2 separate regions of the Homo sapiens genome follow, and region 2 is linked to region 1. A link means that fine-mapping ties the variant in region 1 to the expression of a gene that starts in the linked region. Tissue or cell type: whole blood. Region 1 holds a variant in brackets; the other region holds the start of a gene. All regions are shown on one strand. Distances are from middle to middle.

Region 1 (8,879 bases):
TCTGAGGTCAGGAGTTCAAGACCAGCCTGGCTAATATGGCGAAGCCCTATCTCTACTAAAAACACAAAAATGAGCTGGGCGTGGTGGCAGGCGCCTGTAATTGCAGCTACTCGAGAGGCTGAGGCAGGAGAGTCGCTTGAACCTGGGAGGTGGAAGTTGCAGTGAACTGAGATATCGCCATTGCACTCCAGCCTGGGCAACAAGAGCGAAACTCCGTCTCAAAAACAAACAAACAAACAAACAAACACACACACACACACACACACGAAAAAGAAAAGAAAATTAAAACCTTTTTTCTGCATGGTGGCAGACCCTAATGTCTGCTCACCCAATACCCCTGGCCCCATGCTGCTGGCAACACCCACATGATCTGAAGTGGCTGCCTGGGAGGTTCCTCTGAGGAACGTTCCCTGGCCACAGGAGGGAGAGTAACCAGATAAGCCCACCACCACGATCACGTTCCCCTTTGCAAGTGACACAATCTCAGCTAAGGGAATCTGAAGGTACACTGAACCAGGACCATTGTGGAAAAGGTGTTCCTTCCTCACAGCAATGGATGCTCAGAAAGAAATCTCCCTCCTCTTCTTCACCAGATCTCGTCATGGGCAGGTGACAATCACCCTGTAGCCAGGAGAGCAGACACCACTTGCATGCTAAGGATGGCTGTAGCCAAAAACATAAACACCTGGGGTGGGGAGATCATCTCTGAACTGCTGAGTGATGCAACCCTAGTACTTCCCCACCTTCAAACTTCATGTTATGTGAGAAAATACACTTACTATCACTTAAGCCATTTTAGCTGGAGTTTAACCTCACCCTAACCCTAACAGACCCATCATGTCTATGGAAGAAGTTCAAACACCTTCTCATGGCACGTGAGGCTATCTTCTTGGCCTTCCTTTACAGGACAACACCAGATGCCCCCTACTTTCCAGCCACAACACTGAGAGCTGGCACAGGCATTGGGAATCTTTCTTCTTGAATCTCTCATTCTAAAACTCACCTCAGTTCCCACTCAGATTAAACACAGCAACTATGAAGACTTTCTTTGGGCTGCCCCTGCAGAACAGACCAGTCCCTCTTGTCAGTCTAGAAAACCACGTCTAACACACACTTGTTATCTTCCCACCTGTCTGTAAGGAATGAGATGTGATTTAGGAGTGTGTACATGCATGTAACAGTTTTTGAAGAAAAACCGAGACTGAGAGTAAGTTGCAGACGAAATAACACTGTTCTCCTAAGTACTTCAGTACGTATCTCCTAACAACATCCTCTTACATAATCACAGTATGCATGTGCAACTCAGGAAATGTAACACTGATACAATACTGAATATACTGCCCTTACTCAAATTTTGCTGGTTGTCCCAATAATGATCTTTATCACACATCTGTCTCTTCAAAATGACATGTCCTATAGCCATGAGATTACAAGATCCAAGATCTAATTCAGGATCATGGTGCATTTAATTGTCATGTCTTTGTCACCTTGTTTAATCGAAAAAGGATCAAAGGTTCCCTGGCCTTTGTCTTTCGTAAGTGACATTTTATTCTTATTTGTTTATTAGACAGAGTCTTGCTCTGTTGCCCACGCTAGATGGAGTGCAGTGGCACGATCCAGGCTCACTGCAACCTTTGCCTCCCGGGTTCAAGCAATTCTCCAACCTCAGCCAGAATAGCTGGGATTACAGGCGTGCACCACCGCACCCGGCTAACGTTTGTATTTTTAGTAGAGACGGGGTTTCGCCACGTTGGCCAGGCTGGTTTCGAACTTCTGACCTCAGGTGATCCGCCCGCCTAAGCCTCCCAAAGTGCTAGGATTACAGGCGTGAGCCATTGCACCCGGCCATAACTGACATTTTTGAAGAATAGAGGCCAGTTGTTATTGTAGAAGGTCCTTCAATTTGGGGTACCTCCTCATGGTTACAGGGCATGTCATTTTGAAGAGAAAGGAATCTGATCCCGGATACAGCAGACAGTTCCATGAGGGCACAGGGCCTGTACCTGGTGAAATAGGTCTCAACATGCTTCTGAGGGTTCCAATCCATAGTTTTTACGCTATTTTGCTATCCTAAATTTGGAGATTCACTGAGGTGTCCAGACACAAACTGTACAATATTTATTAAATATGTATTAAAAAGTCCTCTCTATCATAACTACTGTTTTGTTTGTTGCCCTCCAGGCTTTGTCCACCTGCACACACAAATTTACTCGGTACTCCTTAATAAATATTTTTGTCCAACCCAAATGATAAACGTTTGAGGTGGTAGATATCCTAATTACTATGATTTGCTCATTATGCATTGCATGCATGTTACAAAATATTCTGTAACCCCTTAATATATACAATCACATGTCAACTACAAATAAAAGGAAAAAAGAAAATATGTACCCCCCCAAATAACAACATTTTATTTTTTATTTTATGTTTTAGAGATAGGGTCTTGCTCTGTCACCTCTGTGCAATGGCACAATCACAGCTCACTGTATCCTCAAACTCCTGGACTCAACCAATTCTCCCGCTTCAGCCCCCTATAGCTGGGACCACAGGTGTGCCCCACCACAAACAGCTCATTTTTTATTTTATTTTTAATTAATGAATTAATTAAATAATTATTTTGACAGGGTCTTGCTCCGGCACCCAGGCTGGAGTGCAGTGAAGTTGCAGGCTCAATGCAGCTTCCGCCCTGCACCAAAACACCCACCTGATTTTTGTACTGTTTTGGAGAGACAGGGTTTCGCCATGTTTCCCAGGCTTGCCAGCTAATTAAAAAAATTTTTTTTTGTAGAGATGGGGTCTTGCTATGTTGCCCAGGCTGGTCTCAAACTCCTGGCCTCAAGAAATACTCCTACTTCAGTCTCCCAAAGCACTGGGATTACAGGCATGAGCCACTGCAGCCCAAAATAACTACTTTTAAAAATGCAGTGTTCCTTAACTGATGAGCATGAAAATGAAACTTCATCTAAACCAGGAACTGGAGCCATTACCATTAGAGATCAGCTCTCCTTCCTTTCTGTCCAGGGCGAGGATGAAGAGACCGTGTCAAGCACTGTAACCCAGAAGCAAACAAGGGCCAAATATTTTATATTTAAGTTTGGAAAAATCTGCAAAAGGCGACCTAACTGGCTATTTTGAACATCCCTAAGCACTCTTCCTAGGAGAGGGAGGCCAGGCCACAGAAGAGCAGATAAACTCAGAGAGTACTTAGTGAAACCCAGGGCAGGGCTGGCCTCAGTGTAGAACAATGGGAACAGAACAGCTGGAAGCTGAGCACAGGAGTTGAAATCCTGCATCCTTAGGCAAACTGCTTCATCTCTGCATCTTCATACCCTCACCTGTAAAACAAGGGTACCAACGCCCCAGAGTTAAAAACTTCACCCATCATCCTGCCACTCTCAGAGCTATCAGTTTTCATTTATGGTTTATTCTAGTTCTTATCAAATTCACAGGCAAGTTTCAAAGTTGTAAGCAGGGCTTATGTCCTGGGCTAGTGTTTTTGTTTTTCACTGGTCTGCTACACTCTGACCACCGTGACCACTTTTTCATCCTATTTCAGTCCAAATACATATACCAGCTGTTTGGGTGAAGGCAGAGTTAGACAAATTCTTCTTCTGTAATTCACCATATGAATATGTGTAAAACCAAATATACAGGTGTGGCTTTTTAAAAGGCAAGATAGGGCGCACACGTAGTCGTACCATCACCCTTCTGTTTACCACTGTCACCACATTTCCATATTCCCTAGTTCAGCAAAACTGACAAAGGGGAGTGAAGGAGGCAGGCCAGGATATTGCAA[C/T]ACAACACAGCTTTGCTTTCTACACACCAAAGTGTCCCAACACATGGGTTAAGCAAGAGCAATCTGTATCATCGGAAGTTCCTAAGGTTCACGATTGACAGCGATCCAGTCCCAGGTAAGCCCTCTTCTCTCTGACCGTTACCAGGGGGCCCGGGAGAATGCAAAGAAAAGGAGACTGTGGGCACCCTGCACCCAGAGCATTTGCACCTCAAGGAAACTTCACCAGCCGATATCAAATAGCGAACACTGCCTGTCATACTTCCATAGCTAGGGAAAGGAATTTTCCCTTTTGCAGCTTCCTGGCTGCCAACCAGGAGGCTACCCCTTTCATTAAGCTGAAATGAGAGAAAAGAGAGGCTACACATTTCCCCATTTCTATCACACTCATACGAGGCTGGGAAGACCCAGTGAGGAATGAGGAAAATAGTAGGGACTTAGGAAGGAGAAAGTTACAGCCAAACTCAGCCAGCCTCAGGAAAGGCAACTGTTTACCAAGCAAGGTACAGAGGACATTCACTTCTATACTAGGAAACCCAAGCCGGTGGTCTGCATGCAGACTGTTAGGTGGGGATCACTCCTAAACACTGAAAGACAAATGGTACCTACATCTGTTCCAGGATCCATTCTTAATAATGATGATCAGAAATCAGCATTTCACCTTAAGCAAGGAATGAACTACTAGAATCAAACACCAGGTGGGTGGCTAAATCAATCTGTGCAGCCAATAACATTTGAAAACAGCCTCATCTGAAAAAAATTTCAAAGCCATCAGCCAAAGTATCCACAAAACACACCTTTCTTCAGGTTTTCTACAGCCTCCTCTTCCATAATACCTTATTTTCTTCTTTGAATTCCACTTGGAGCCCCAGATTATTTGTACTGACAGGACTGGTCTATCACACCTTCTCCTGGAAATAAGAACTCTTTTATGCTCCTACAGACACAATGCGTTAAAATTATGCTAACAATTTCACGTTATAACGTGCGTGGGGCTGTAAGCTCCCTGAAAGCAGGGATCCTGTCTTGCTTATCTACTCAGTGCCTAGCATAAAATGCTTCGTATGTACTAGGCACTCAATAAACCCACGTGCTGAATGAGTGCTCACATTATAGAGGATACACAGTATCAACAAGCTGCTTGTCTAGTCAAAGATATAAAGCAGTAATCTTAATGTTTACTACTACTTTCTGAAAACAGAAACAATAACGAATTCTCTAGAAATATTACACTGGGTCATCTTTCTCTTTAAGACTTTTTCCTATTGCCCTCTTTACCTTTTAGGGGACCACCCAAGTATATTTCACTCTTTGGCTACAAACTCAGCATCAATGAACCCCAACCCTAGAATTGATACACAGATTAAATGGCATAATGTAGGATGAGCAACAGTAGTGTAAGAAATAAGCATGTAAGAGTTCAGATGCTGTTTTGTGATGTGTTCATACTTCTCTGCTTTCCCTCCCACACATATTTTCTCTTCCTCACCCACTCCTAATTTCTCTCTCACATCCCTATTTCCTGTGAAAAAGGTCTCCTTTCTTTAGATTTTTTTTTCATGGTTTCTTTAGATTGTCTTTTGCATTACTTTTGTAATACTGTGACTATGTATTTGGTCTTCCACCCTGTCTCCTGGCATACAACTCCTAAAATCCTTGGAATCTCCAAAATAGAATTTTTATTTTTTATTTTTTTATTTTTATTTTTTTTTGGCTCTGTCGCCTAGGCTAGAGTGCAGTGGCACGATCTTGGCTCACTGCAGCCTCTACTTCCCGGATTCAAACAATTCTTCTGCCTCAGCCTCCCAAGTAGCTGGGATTACAGGCGCATACCACCACACCCGGCTAATTTTTTGTATTTTCAGCAGAGACGGGGTTTCACCATGTTGGCCAGAATGGTCTAGAACTCCCAACCTCAGGTGATCCATCCGCCTCGGCCTCACAAATTGCTGGGATTATAGGTGTGAGCCACCACACCCAACCAGTAATGTCTTTTCGTATGCTCACGAATTGACTGATGGCTGGCAGCTCCTAGGTAGCTTCGGACAGGAGCTGGTCACCAGGAAGACCAAGGCATGACTGATTAGAGGACTGGGACTTTCAGCCCATCCTTAATTTCCAGGGAAGGGAGAGATACTAAAGCTTAAGTTGATCACCAACGGCCAATGGTTTAATCAATCATGCCTATGTAATGAAGCCTCCATAAAAACTCACAAGTACAGGGTTCAGAGAGCTTCCAGATAGCTGAACACATGGAGGTTCCTGAAGAGTGGCACACCTGGACGGGGCAAAAAGGCTACATGGCCCTCTCACACGCCTTGCCCTATCACCTGATATTCAGTGGTATCCTTCATAATATCCTTTACAATAAAAAACCAGTAAACATGTTTCCTTGAGCTCTGTCAACCGCTCTAGTAAATTAATTGAACCCAAGGAGGGGCTTGTGGGAACCCCATTTATAGCCAGTCAGAAGCACAGGTAAAACAACTTGGGGCTTGCAAATGGTGGGGGGCGGGGGCAGTCTTGAGGACTGAGCCCTCAACCGTGGGATCTGACACCATCTGCCTGTCAGCTGGCGTCTGCTGCAGCACCGAGTGCCTACTCGGTGTGTGTGTGTGGCTGGGGGCATCTCCACAAATCTGGTCCCAGAGGTGTTCTGTGTCGACTGTTGACACTGAGTATAGGAATAAAGGAGTATAGGAGAAACCTGATTTTTCCCTACATCCTCAGACTTGTACTATAGCCCTGACTACTCAAATGCTTCTATTAAATCTTTCAAAAGCTAAACATTTTTATTCACCTATTTACCTACCCTCGAAAAACTTCCAAAAGGAATTTTTTTTAAGAGATGGGGTCTGTGTTGCCCAGGCTGGAGTGCAGTGGCCATTCACAAGTGTGATCATGGCTCACTGTAGCCTCAAACTCCTAAACTCCTGGACTCAAGCAATCCTCCTGCCTCAGCCTCCCAAGTAGCCAAGACTGCTGGCATGTGCCACTGTGGCTCCAAAAAGAATTTTTAATTTCTAAGTTAACGGACACAGGAAGAGGTAATGCACATGTTAATTGGCTCAATTTAGCCAATCCACAATGTATAGATATTTCAAAACATCATGTTGTATATGATAAATACATACAATTTTTATTTGTTAATTAAAACAAAATTTGAAGGAAAAAAACTACATACAAAAAACTTGATCCAGCAAGGGCAAAGCATCCTGGAAAAGTTCACTCCTAGAGATGAGGAATCTAGAGAGTGGTGGAAGGATTCACAGTGTTGTTATTATTATTGTTAAATGACCTGGAGGCCACACTACGCTCTCGGTGTGTTTACTGATCTATTACTAATTAGACACTACGGACACAGGAAGTGCAGTCTGGTGTAGTGAGAAGAGTACTCAACCAAGCCCTGGTTCAGATCACAGCTGTCACCACAGCTACTGCCTCCCTGTGTACCCCTCCTTAGCTCTAAAATGGAAGGACAGCTGGGTGCAGTGGCTCATGCCTGTAATCCCAGCACTTTGGGAGGCAGACAGGTGGGTCACCTATGGTCAGGAGTTCGAAACCAGCCTAGCCAACATGGTGAAACCCTGTCTCTACTAAAAATACTGAAAATTACAAAAAATTAGCTGGGCGTGGTGGCAGGTGCCTATAACCCCAGCTACTCGGGAAGCTGAGGCAGGAGAATCACTGGGAGGTTGCAGTGAGCCGAGATCGCGCCATTGCACTCCAGCCTGGGCAACAAGGGCAAAACTCTGTCCCAAAAAAATAAATAAATAAAATAAAATAAAGGACAGTAGCACCTGCTTCGCAGGATCGTTGATGAAAGAATTAAACCATACAGCATTTAGCACTGAGCTTGGCATGCAGTAAGGACTCAAAAAATATTAGTCATTACTATCACTGTCCCAATCCCATCTCCCAAGGCACCTATGAGGGCTGAACCAGCCAAAGCCTTTAAGAACCTGGCACTCCAGGGTTGGTACAGAGCAGGCGCTCAACAGCCGCCACTTATCAATGGTAGTGACTTGCTAATAAACTCATCCCTGCTGATCTGTGGCAATTCTAGTAGAATTAAAGGTTACTTTGCTTTGAAAGTTCTTGGGGATTATGCAAATAAATATAATGGAACAACTCTCTATACCAAAAAAAAAAAAAAAAAAGAAAGAGAAAAGCTGTTTTATTAATATTTATGCCATCGTAAGTAATTTTTATCTAGGCATTTAAACAAGTTCCCAAAAGACATCTAACTTTTTTTTTTTTTTTTACAATGACTATTAGGAAATAATTAAAGCAACCTCCTTCTAAAATCTTCCGTAATTCAGGCTTCTTTTATGCAGACACACCAATCCCTAATTAGAACAGAACAATGAGGTTGTACTTCATTCTGAACAGTGATCTTATCTTGAGTAAGTCTTGCCCCTCCTCAGAATCACTGATCTGCTGAAGAGCCAGAGAGCTCGGCCGGCAGCCCCCACCCTCTCCTCCCCAGGAGAAGGAAGCGAGTCACTGCTCAGGGGCCCTCACTCGGTGCAGGACCGGCTGGGTTTGAGATAGAATAGAAGTCGGCCTCCCCAGAGGACTGTACTCTAATTGAGGAAGACAGCCAATGGACACCAAGCCACAAACTTAAATTAACACGTATGTCATATTTTACAGCCAAGTGGAATAAGGCAGTGAACAAAAGTAGGAAAGGCTTCAAATAAGAGGCTCTGAGCAGAAGTTTAGAGGAAAAGGACACTGACAACTCCAAAGAGGCAGGGACAGAAGACAGCAAGACAGGCAGGCAGAGATGGCTGCTCTGCTGTGGGGAACTTCAAGGGAAAAGCTCCAAGATGGCAGGAGCCCCAGGGTAGGTACAAGTTCCATACGGTGGGAAGGGCCTCACTACGGTAGGCAGGCTTGCTCTGTCGCCCAGGCTGGAGTGCAGTGACACAATCTCGGGTTATTAAATTTGGGTTTAATAAACCGAATTGTCTTAAAACCCTCAACACAGCACTTACATTTATACTAGAGCTTAGAATTTGGGTTTTCTTGTTTTCCTGTCATATGCTGTGTTTTGTATGATGAACGATATTTAAGTGGACAT
Region 2 (8,879 bases), 23 kb after region 1:
GTAATATAAAGTCCCCACTTATTGTAAGGGTGCCAAGTAAAGGAAGACCTCATGTATGAGAAAGTGTAAAGGCTTCTACATAATACAAGAAAATGCTACTTTAACATCTGAGGCCATCAAATTCTGTGCCTCTCCAGGGCTGCTGCTTCAGTGGGGTGAAAGGTACCGTTTCTCTCTTGCTACCCTCATTCGCAGCACATTCCGTATTTCTGCATCATCTCTGCATAAGCTTCCCAGGCTTCGGCAACTTGTTTGTCATCAGTGGCAGTGACATTCATCACTCTGAGGTGCTGCATGACCTTCGGGAGTGCTGTTTGCAACATCCATGCCCCCAGATGAGCAGCACCCTGGCTGAGCAGCTCCCCAATGTCGGGTGCATTTTTCTCTCAGCTCACTGCCACCCTTCACAGACACATCTAAGTGACACTGGTGGCCCCACAGGCCAGTCTCTACAGACATGCACTGCAGTCCAAGTAGATCCTGTTTCTCAGGCTGCCAAGGGCTCCTCCTCCTTTCAACCCCTCAGCTCCTAGACAGAGGTCCCCTCCCTCAAATTTGATCACATGCACCGGGCACACACCCTGCTCCACTAGGCCCAATTTTCCCCTGGGAGCCTCAGAGACACATCCCGTCACTAAAATAAGATTGAGTTCCTCAAGAATGTTATTCTCAGGTCTGTCCCACCTAACCAAATGCCTTCAGTTTTTGAATGTATTTAATGTAAAAACTCAAGCCATTTATTTGTTTAAAATACATCCCTAAGATCTCTGTCCATCTCATTACTCAATTTCTTAGTGGAGCAGTTACAACAGACAAAGTGTCCCTCGTTTCTTTTGGAGACAGCGTCTCACTCCATTACCCAGGCTGGAGTGCAGTGGCGCGATCTTGGCTCACTGCAACCTCTGCCTCCCGAGTTCAAGCAATTGTCATGCCTCAGCCTCTCAAGTAGCTGGAATTACAGGTGCATGTCACCATGCCTGGCTATGTTTTTGTATTTTGAGTACAGATGGGGTTTCCCCATGTTGGCCAGGCTGGTCTTGAACTCCTGACCTGAAGTTGATCCACCAGCCTCCGCCTCCCAAAGTGCTGGGATTACAGGCATGAGCCATGGCGCCCAGCAGCCCCTTGTTTAATGTGCTTGATAATGAGCCCTTCCTTGGTCCCCCATACTAACAGACCCTTTCACAATAGTGTGATGGTGATGAATGTGTAACACATGACCCAACTTAAGTATGATGTTGACTTTCTACTTTGGATTAAATCGGAGCCATTTAAAGCTGACTTTTGGTCCCACGAAAGAGCCCCTGTGCCTTACAAGGATCAAAATTGTAAAGGAAGGGGGAAAAGGTGGTTAAGTGTGGAAAATCCTTTCTGATCAACTTATTAAGCATCTGATCATCCAATAATGGACACTACTATGGAAAAAGCTAACCTTTGGGCTCCATCTTGGAAACAGCTGGATGTACATATAAGGACATGCCTTTTTGTTAAGTCTTGTGTTACTAATTGTCCCCCTTTTTAAGACAAAATCTACAACAAATTCATTCAACAACAGCAAAGCTACAAAGCCATCCAGGTTACCAGTTTCAGAAGACAAGCTTCAAAGCTGAACTCGCCACGTATGACCTACGTCTCACAGAACTGAAGACTACTCAAACACAGCAAGATTAATGAAGCAACGGAGATCTGTTTTGCAGTACAACGGCATTTAAACTACTGTTTCCAAATTTCTCACTTCAATAAGTTCATTTTATAAGATTAACGTCAAACTCAACTTTTATCAGCTAAAAAGAAAAGCATTAGTGATTTTTATATACCATGAGCATCATTTACTCCTCCCCACTGTTTAACAAATTTTAACTAGATAAGAATCTCCTTATGATTGATCTTTAAAAATCGCTTTTCACTTCTACATTAATATTAAACGTCGCTTATCATAACTTGATTCCAGGAATTGTATTCAAACTTAAGCCACAAAATTCAGGTTTTGTTTCAACAGCAATAGCAGTTTTTTTTAATATGCTAGTGGTCGGTCACAGAACTATTTCCACAAGTTGAACAGCTGTGTCTAGTGCAAATCTGAAGGCAGCGATGTAATTCAATTTGGACTCATTCATTAGAAACTGATTTTCAGATGCTACCACTGCAAGACTACTGGAGAAATGCAAGCTGCGCTGGAGATGGAATTGTTCGCAGCGGCACACAAGTTTTTGCGGCAAAGGAGAGAGCTCTAAAAGAGGAAATACAACTAGTTCATGTTACCATGAACCAGCGCAGTGGGACCCAGAATTACTGAATTAATAGAAAACTAAATACTTCTCTTAAGCAGCTATGATAACTTAAGAAAGTTTCCAGGGAAGCCGTTTAATGAAAGGAAACAAACAAAAAGATGATTTATTCAGTATCCTGCTCCATTTTTTTGAAAAATTGGAATTCCTACATTCCTTAATTCTTTGTACATCTACACTGTGAAAGCAACACAAACTCAAATGGAGATTGCAGCCCAAATGAACTTAAACCTGCTGTTTAACTTTCTTTTGAAGTTATACATGGAAATGAAACACACCACAGCAACTTTCATGACATCTTGCTAACGAAGTTTGGGTTTTGAAAAATGGAATGACTAGTTGACTAAAAACACACACGCGCGCACACACACACACACACACACACACACAAAACAAGGAGTTTTGAAAATAAGCACTAAGCATCTTTCCAAGGAACTCACTCATTCCAAGAAACTTCGGTTCTAACTCGCAAGCTGGCGGCTGCTGTGAGTGTCCTCTGAATGCAGCCTGGTCAATGTGTCGCCAATCCAGAAAACACACTGCCCTACCTTTGGCCGCGATCTTGCTTTCTCTAAGCATCAAAGGTACCCTCCGCTGTCATTCCTCTGGACGGCCACGCGTGTGGACACGGCCGCGGATGGATGCGTAGGACATTACCAAACAAACCCACACGCTGCACTTTACTTCTTCCCTCCTGGAGTGCCACTAGGGTCCCCGCGAGGAGGGCTGATCGGGTGCGGGGAGGCCGAGTGCACCGGGCGTGTGCTGACCAACTCGGGCCCAGTGACAGTCCTGCGACGAACTTCCACCCTCCCGCGCGGGGCGAGGGGAACGGGCTGCGGGGCCTGCTCCGAGCTCCCGGCTCGATCGGTATCCGCGACCACGACCCCCGGACGCTCTCTTTCAGGTGGGGGTGACAGCGCGCCCCGGGCCCCCGCCGCCCCGGACCCCCTCCTCACCTGTGCTGTCATTCGCCGAGAAACCGGGCGAGCTGAGTTTGGCTCTTTTGGGGTTGGGCGGTCCGTCCAGCAAGTTCTCAGCCATTTTCACCTGCTCGCGAAAACAGCCCCGGGCACGGGCGGCCGGGCCGGCGAGGGCCCGGACGGGGGTCGGGGGCCCTGCCGGCTGCGAGGGAGAGGAGCGAGCGCGGGCCGCGAGCGGGCGGGCGGGCGCCGAGGGAGAGGGAGGGCGCAGGCCGGGTGGGGGAGGCGGCGGCCAAATCTCAGCCACAGCAACAGCGCCCCGCAGCGCTCACCGCCCGCCCCCGGCCGCCGCCGCCGCCGCCGGCCGCGGCCCCCTCATCCCCTGCCCGCCTCCCGAGCGCGACACTCCGCGGTGGGGGCGCCCCGGCGGCCCGGCCGCCCCCCCGGGCCCGGCTGGCAGCGACGGCGCCCGGCCGGGCGGCTCAGGCAGTCCCCGAGAACATGGTGCCGCCGCCGCCGCCGCCTCGCTCCCCCCCCGCGCCCCACTTAATGAATTCGCTCGCGGCCCGACGACGAGGGGGCTCCGGGCTCCGCTCCCGGCCCGCGGCCCGCCGCCGCCGCCGCCGTGAGGAAAAACAATGCGCCGAGCGGGGTCGCCGCCGCCGCCGCGGCCCCCCCACCCCCCGTTCCGCCGCCGCCGCCGCCGCTGCCGCCGCCGCCGCCGCCGGGCTCCGGGAGGCCGAGCCGAGAGGCGAGCGGGGCCGCCGGGGCGGGCGCCGAGGGCCGGGCGGAGCGGGCCGGCCGGGCGGAGCGGGGTGCGCGGGCGGTTGTGGGGCCCGGGACCGGCGGGGCCGAGTAGATCGCGCTCGAAGCCCCGGTCGGGTCCGCGACAAGATGGCGGCTGTTGATTCCTCAATTAAAAAAAAAAGAAAGTTTTTTTTCTTCTCTTTCCAGAGCCTGAACGGGGAGGGGGTGGGGGCGGGGCACGCCGGTGCGTCACCCCCCCGCGGCGTCACCACGCACGGCCCCCGCCCCGCCCCCTCCACCTGCGCCGGCCGTGGCGGAAAGAGCCGAGCGTGCTCGGGCCGAAGGGCTGAAGGCGCGGCCGCCAAGCGTAGGGAAGCTGGCGGCCCGGCGCGGGCCAGGCCTGCGGGGCGCCTGGGCTCCGGGCTGAGCCACAGCTTTTGTTCTGATGGCGACCAGGCGTAGAGGGCCGGGGCTCCGGGCCCCAGCGGGCTCCGGGAGCGGCGGCCTGGCCGCGGGCTGGGCTCTCGGGCGCGGATTCGACGCCAGCCCGGGCCCGCCCGTCCCGCTGGGGCGGCGCTGCGTGTTCCCAGCTCCTCGCGTCCCCTTCCCCAGACCCTCCTAGGTGGCGTCGGTCGGGAACGGTCGGGGCGACCCCAGCCCAGGCCGCGCCACTAGCCTTCGCCGCCGGCCAGGGAAGTGGAATGGCCTCTGCAGGTTACAGACCGCCCTTGGGTCCTGCCGACGAGGTGGGCGGATGGGGAAACTGAGGCGGGGGGCGAGCAACTGCTCCAAAGTGGTCGAGGCAGGAAGTGGCAGGGCCGGGATTCGGGTCCCGCCCTACCTCGTGACACTAGGGAGTGAGGGGGCCTCACGCCTGTTCGCATCCCAAGGCGGCAGGGCAGACACCCTCACCTGTGAGAGCGGGGTGGCGAGGGCCGGCCTGGGCGGAGAAGGGCCCGCGCATCGGGGCTTAAGCCTGGACGCTCAGGCCGCACTCCCCGCCCCAGGCAACTTGCCTGGCGCCTCGCAGGTGCCCCAGACAGGGGTGCGGGCCTGGGGAGTCCCCCACGCGAGACCACAGCCCGCGGGACACTTCTACGAATACCCGAGGTGTTCCCATCCCAGTTAGTTATCTGCCCCTCCAAACTTGCCCGGCTTCCTCATAAAGGTATCAGCAGCTCCACTGTTTCCTAAGCCAGAAACCCGTGAGTCAGCGCGGACTCCTCCCTCTCACCCGCCACGCGCCCCTCTACCCACGGTCTTTACCTGGGAGACTGCTCCTCCCGCACTGTCCCGGTGGCTATGGTGGCAGCTACTCACTTAAGTGTTCTTTGCTCTCCACGTTGCTCCCCACGCAGCACCAGAGTTAACATCCCGAAAAGAGAGGGAGAAAATCTGTTTAAAACAACTCCCTGGCCAGGCGCGGTGGCAGATCACCTGAGGTCAGGAGTTCAAGACCAGCCTGGCCAACATGGTGAAACCCCATCTCTACCAAAAATACAAACATTAGCTGGGCGTGGCGGCGTGCGCCTGTAATCCCAGCTACTCGGGAGGCTGAGATGCGAGAATCACTTGAACTGGGGAGGCCAGTAAGCCGGGATCTCGCCATTGCACTCCATCCTGGGCGACAAGAGTGAAACTCCGTCTCAAAAACAAAACAAAACAAAACAAAATCCCAGACATAGAAAAAGAAAACACTACATAGTCTTTCTTTAAAAAAGAACACGTATGAATTCTCTTAAAAACATAGGTGTATGTACATATGGTGACTGTCCTTGAGTGTCAAGATTGAGTGATCGTTCTGCTTTTCTCTGTTTACCTGTACTGCTCAAAATCTTGGGCCGTGATACCGCTCTTGAATCTGTCTCTTCTACTTTACATGGCTCACTTCACCATCATCATCCTACACCCACTTGGCCAGTAGGCAGTTCACATCATTCAGGCTTTTTTTTTTTTTTTTTCAAATGCTGGTCCCTGTGCTGAGAAGACATGCCTGGCAAATTCTAACTCATCCTCCAGAACCCAGTTCAAATGTCACCTACTCCAGGAAGCCCTCCTAGCCCACTCCTCGGCTCCCATATCACTTCTGGGCTCTGTGAGAGAACACATAACACATCCTGCCCCATCTTCCCCGCCTCCACTGCCCCCGAATTAGTTCATGTTTTTACTTATGCATCAAATAGCTCTTGAGAATCCCAAGGGCATTGAGACTGTGCTAATCCCCTTGGCCAAACATAAAGAGATCCCCATATATTCAAGGAGTTAAAATAGCACACCCTGGAAGCCATAAATGGAAGTATTCAAGAAGTCAGTTTGCACAGGAATGGCAAGAAGTGTATCAGTGGCACAGGGCAGGCCACACCCTGTATCTGAATGCTCTGGGTGTCCGTCTCACCAAGGGTCTGTGAGCTCCTTCGGGGCAAAGATGGTGTCTTAGTCACAGAAACAGTGCTCTGCAAGAAGAAGTAGGTTTGTAAAACTGAATGAGTGATGAGCTGTGTCAGGTGCTCTGAGTCCTAGAGGCCTTCAGGCCACTGAAAAGGGTGGGCCCCAGCCTGAGGTGGCTCCAGGCCACTCTTCAAACGGGACAAGGTGTCCAGCCACCTAGAGGTCTTAGGGCCTGCCTTGGGGCAGTGGAGACACCATGCAGCCCCCCAGGGGTCCATTGGTGAGTGGTTTACACAGAAGTGGGCACAGGAGCTTGAGCCATTCCCTGACAGGTTTCCATTTTACAGAGGAAAGCAAGGGAACTCAGTCGCAAGGACTCAGAAGTAAATAACCCGGACATGGCAAGTCTGGGCCTGGAACCCATGTCCTCACTCTCCAAAGACCCTAGTCTTCCTGTCTCACCATGTTCCACCCTCAAAATATACCGGCTCTGCAGTCCCTTTTTCTGTCTCATTGTTCTCACCTGTATCATTTTGATCAATTCTGGTATTCACTGATACCTGTTTTTTCTTTCCTTTCGATTTCTTCTCCCTTCAGTCTGACTCAAAGAACCCTGAGCTCAGACACTGATGGGGGAATAGCAAGGAGGGAAGCGTGGCTCCTGCCTGCACTCACTTAGCTGGGGATCACCTTCAACAAGTGAGTGCCTTAGGGATACCAGGCCGCTCTGCCATGCCTCCCATGGATAGCACTTCCTACAATCCTGGAAGGAAAAATTGTCCTCATTTCACAGATGAAGAAATAAGGCACAAAGGAGGACAAGCCACCCAGCCACGAAGGGGCTTCACTCCGGTGCACACCTAAGGCTTCCTGCTCTTTCCACAAACCTCACCCTCTCCAGTCTCAGATACCACATTAAAAAACAATCAAAGGACTGGGCATGATGGCTCATGCCTGTAATCCCGGCACTTTAGGAGGCCGAGGTGGAAGGATCTCTAGAGCCCAGGAGTTTGAGACCAGCCTGGGCAACAGTGAGACCCTCATCTCTACAACAAAATGTTAAAAAGTGAACTGGGCGTGGTGGCATGCACCTGTAGTCCCAGCTGCCTGGGAGACCAAGGCAATAGGATCACTGGAGCTCAGGAGGTTGAGGCTGCAGTGAGCTATGATCAAACCACTGCACTCCAGTCTGGGCAACAGTGAGATACTGTCTAAAAAAAAAGAAAAGAAAAGAAAAGAAAGAGAAAGAAATGGAATTGGAATTGTTGGCTGGATGCGGCGGCTCACGCCTGTAATCCTAGCACTTTGGGAGGCTAAGGTGAGTGGATCACTTGAGGTCAGGAGTTCGAGACCAGCCTGGCCAATAAGGTGAAACCCTATCTCTACTAAAAGTACAAATAAATGGCTGGGCATGGTGGGGGGGCACCTGTAATCCCAGCTACTTGGGAGGCTGAGGCAGAATTGCTTGAACCCGGGAGGCGGAGGTTGCAGTGAGCCAAGATCGCACTCCAGCCTGGGCAACAAGAATGAAACTTCGTCTCACAAAAAAAAAAAAAAAAAAAAAAAGAAATGGAATTGTTGCAATTTGATATTGATTGTCCCTTTCTAGGCTTAAATAGATTAAAAGATAGCATCAGGTTTGGACTTTGCCTTCAAGCGATGCAGAACAGCATTGGGGAGAAAAACACAAACAGGACACACATTGAAAAGATAAGCAGAGAATCCAAGTCAGAATAGCACAAAATCATAATAACTGATCCCCCAGGGGTGGGAGTCCCGGGGTTGGGGGGCAGAGGCCTGGGGGAGTAGTCCCAGGAAGGCAGGATTCCAGCCAGTTCCTGGTGGACAGAAGGCAGAATGTGGTCTGGTGGTGTGGAGGGATCCAGACAGAGCTAGGTTCAAGTCCCAAACCTACTGCTTTTTCTTAGCTGTTTTGAAAACAAATACCTCGGCCAGGTGTGGTGGCTCACACCTGTAATCCCAGCACTTTAGGAGGCCAAGGCGGGCAGATCACCTGAGGTTGGGAGTTCGAGACCTGCCTGACCAACATGGAGAAACTCCATCTCTACTAAAAATACAAAATTAGCCGGCCTTGGAGGTGCATGCCTGTAATCCCAGCTACTCGGGAGGCTGAGGCAGGATAATTGCCTGAACCCAGGAGGCGGAGGTTGTGGTGAGCCAAGATTGCACCATTGCACTCTAGCCTCGGTAACAGGAGCAAAACTCCATCTCAAAAAAACAAAAAAAGAAAAAAAAAAACAAATACCTCCTCACCTGCTGAGACAGTTGAGGTGCGGTGGAGATGAGATGGAGGGTGCACAGGGTCCCTGGCACACCAAGGCACCATATAGCTGCTATTTGGGGCAGTGGGAAGCAGGCGCTCAAGGGTGAGAGGCCCCTCTCCTCTCTCTGCCGTCCACATGGGAGGCTGCACCCGCCCCTCTCGTGGGGGACTTGCTGTTGCTTTTTTTTTTTTTTAATTATACTTTAAGTGTTAGGGTACATGTGCACAATGTGCAGGTTAGTTACATAT

The links. PIP is the estimated chance that this variant, and not a neighbour inherited with it, causes the effect.
Region 2: CREBBP starts here. The variant in region 1 is fine-mapped to the expression of CREBBP in whole blood (TOPMed, PIP above 0.99).

Annotation. Positions count from the first base shown.
Region 1 is chr16:3,853,718-3,862,596 of GRCh38, forward strand. All of the region lies in intron 1 of CREBBP (CREB binding lysine acetyltransferase), which reads right to left. Among named protein-coding and RNA genes, the nearest start is that of CREBBP, 23 kb to the right of the region's middle. RefSeq lists a silencer at 6,170-6,354. The variant C/T (reference allele first, on the strand shown) is at 3,797.
Region 2 is chr16:3,876,585-3,885,463 of GRCh38, forward strand. CREBBP (CREB binding lysine acetyltransferase) reads right to left here and starts at 4,129. Exons shown (of 31, transcript NM_004380.3): 1 at 3,248-4,129. The coding sequence starts at 3,332. RefSeq lists silencers at 3,118-3,167, 3,248-3,297, 3,338-3,647, 3,985-4,034, 4,055-4,604 and an enhancer at 3,808-4,384.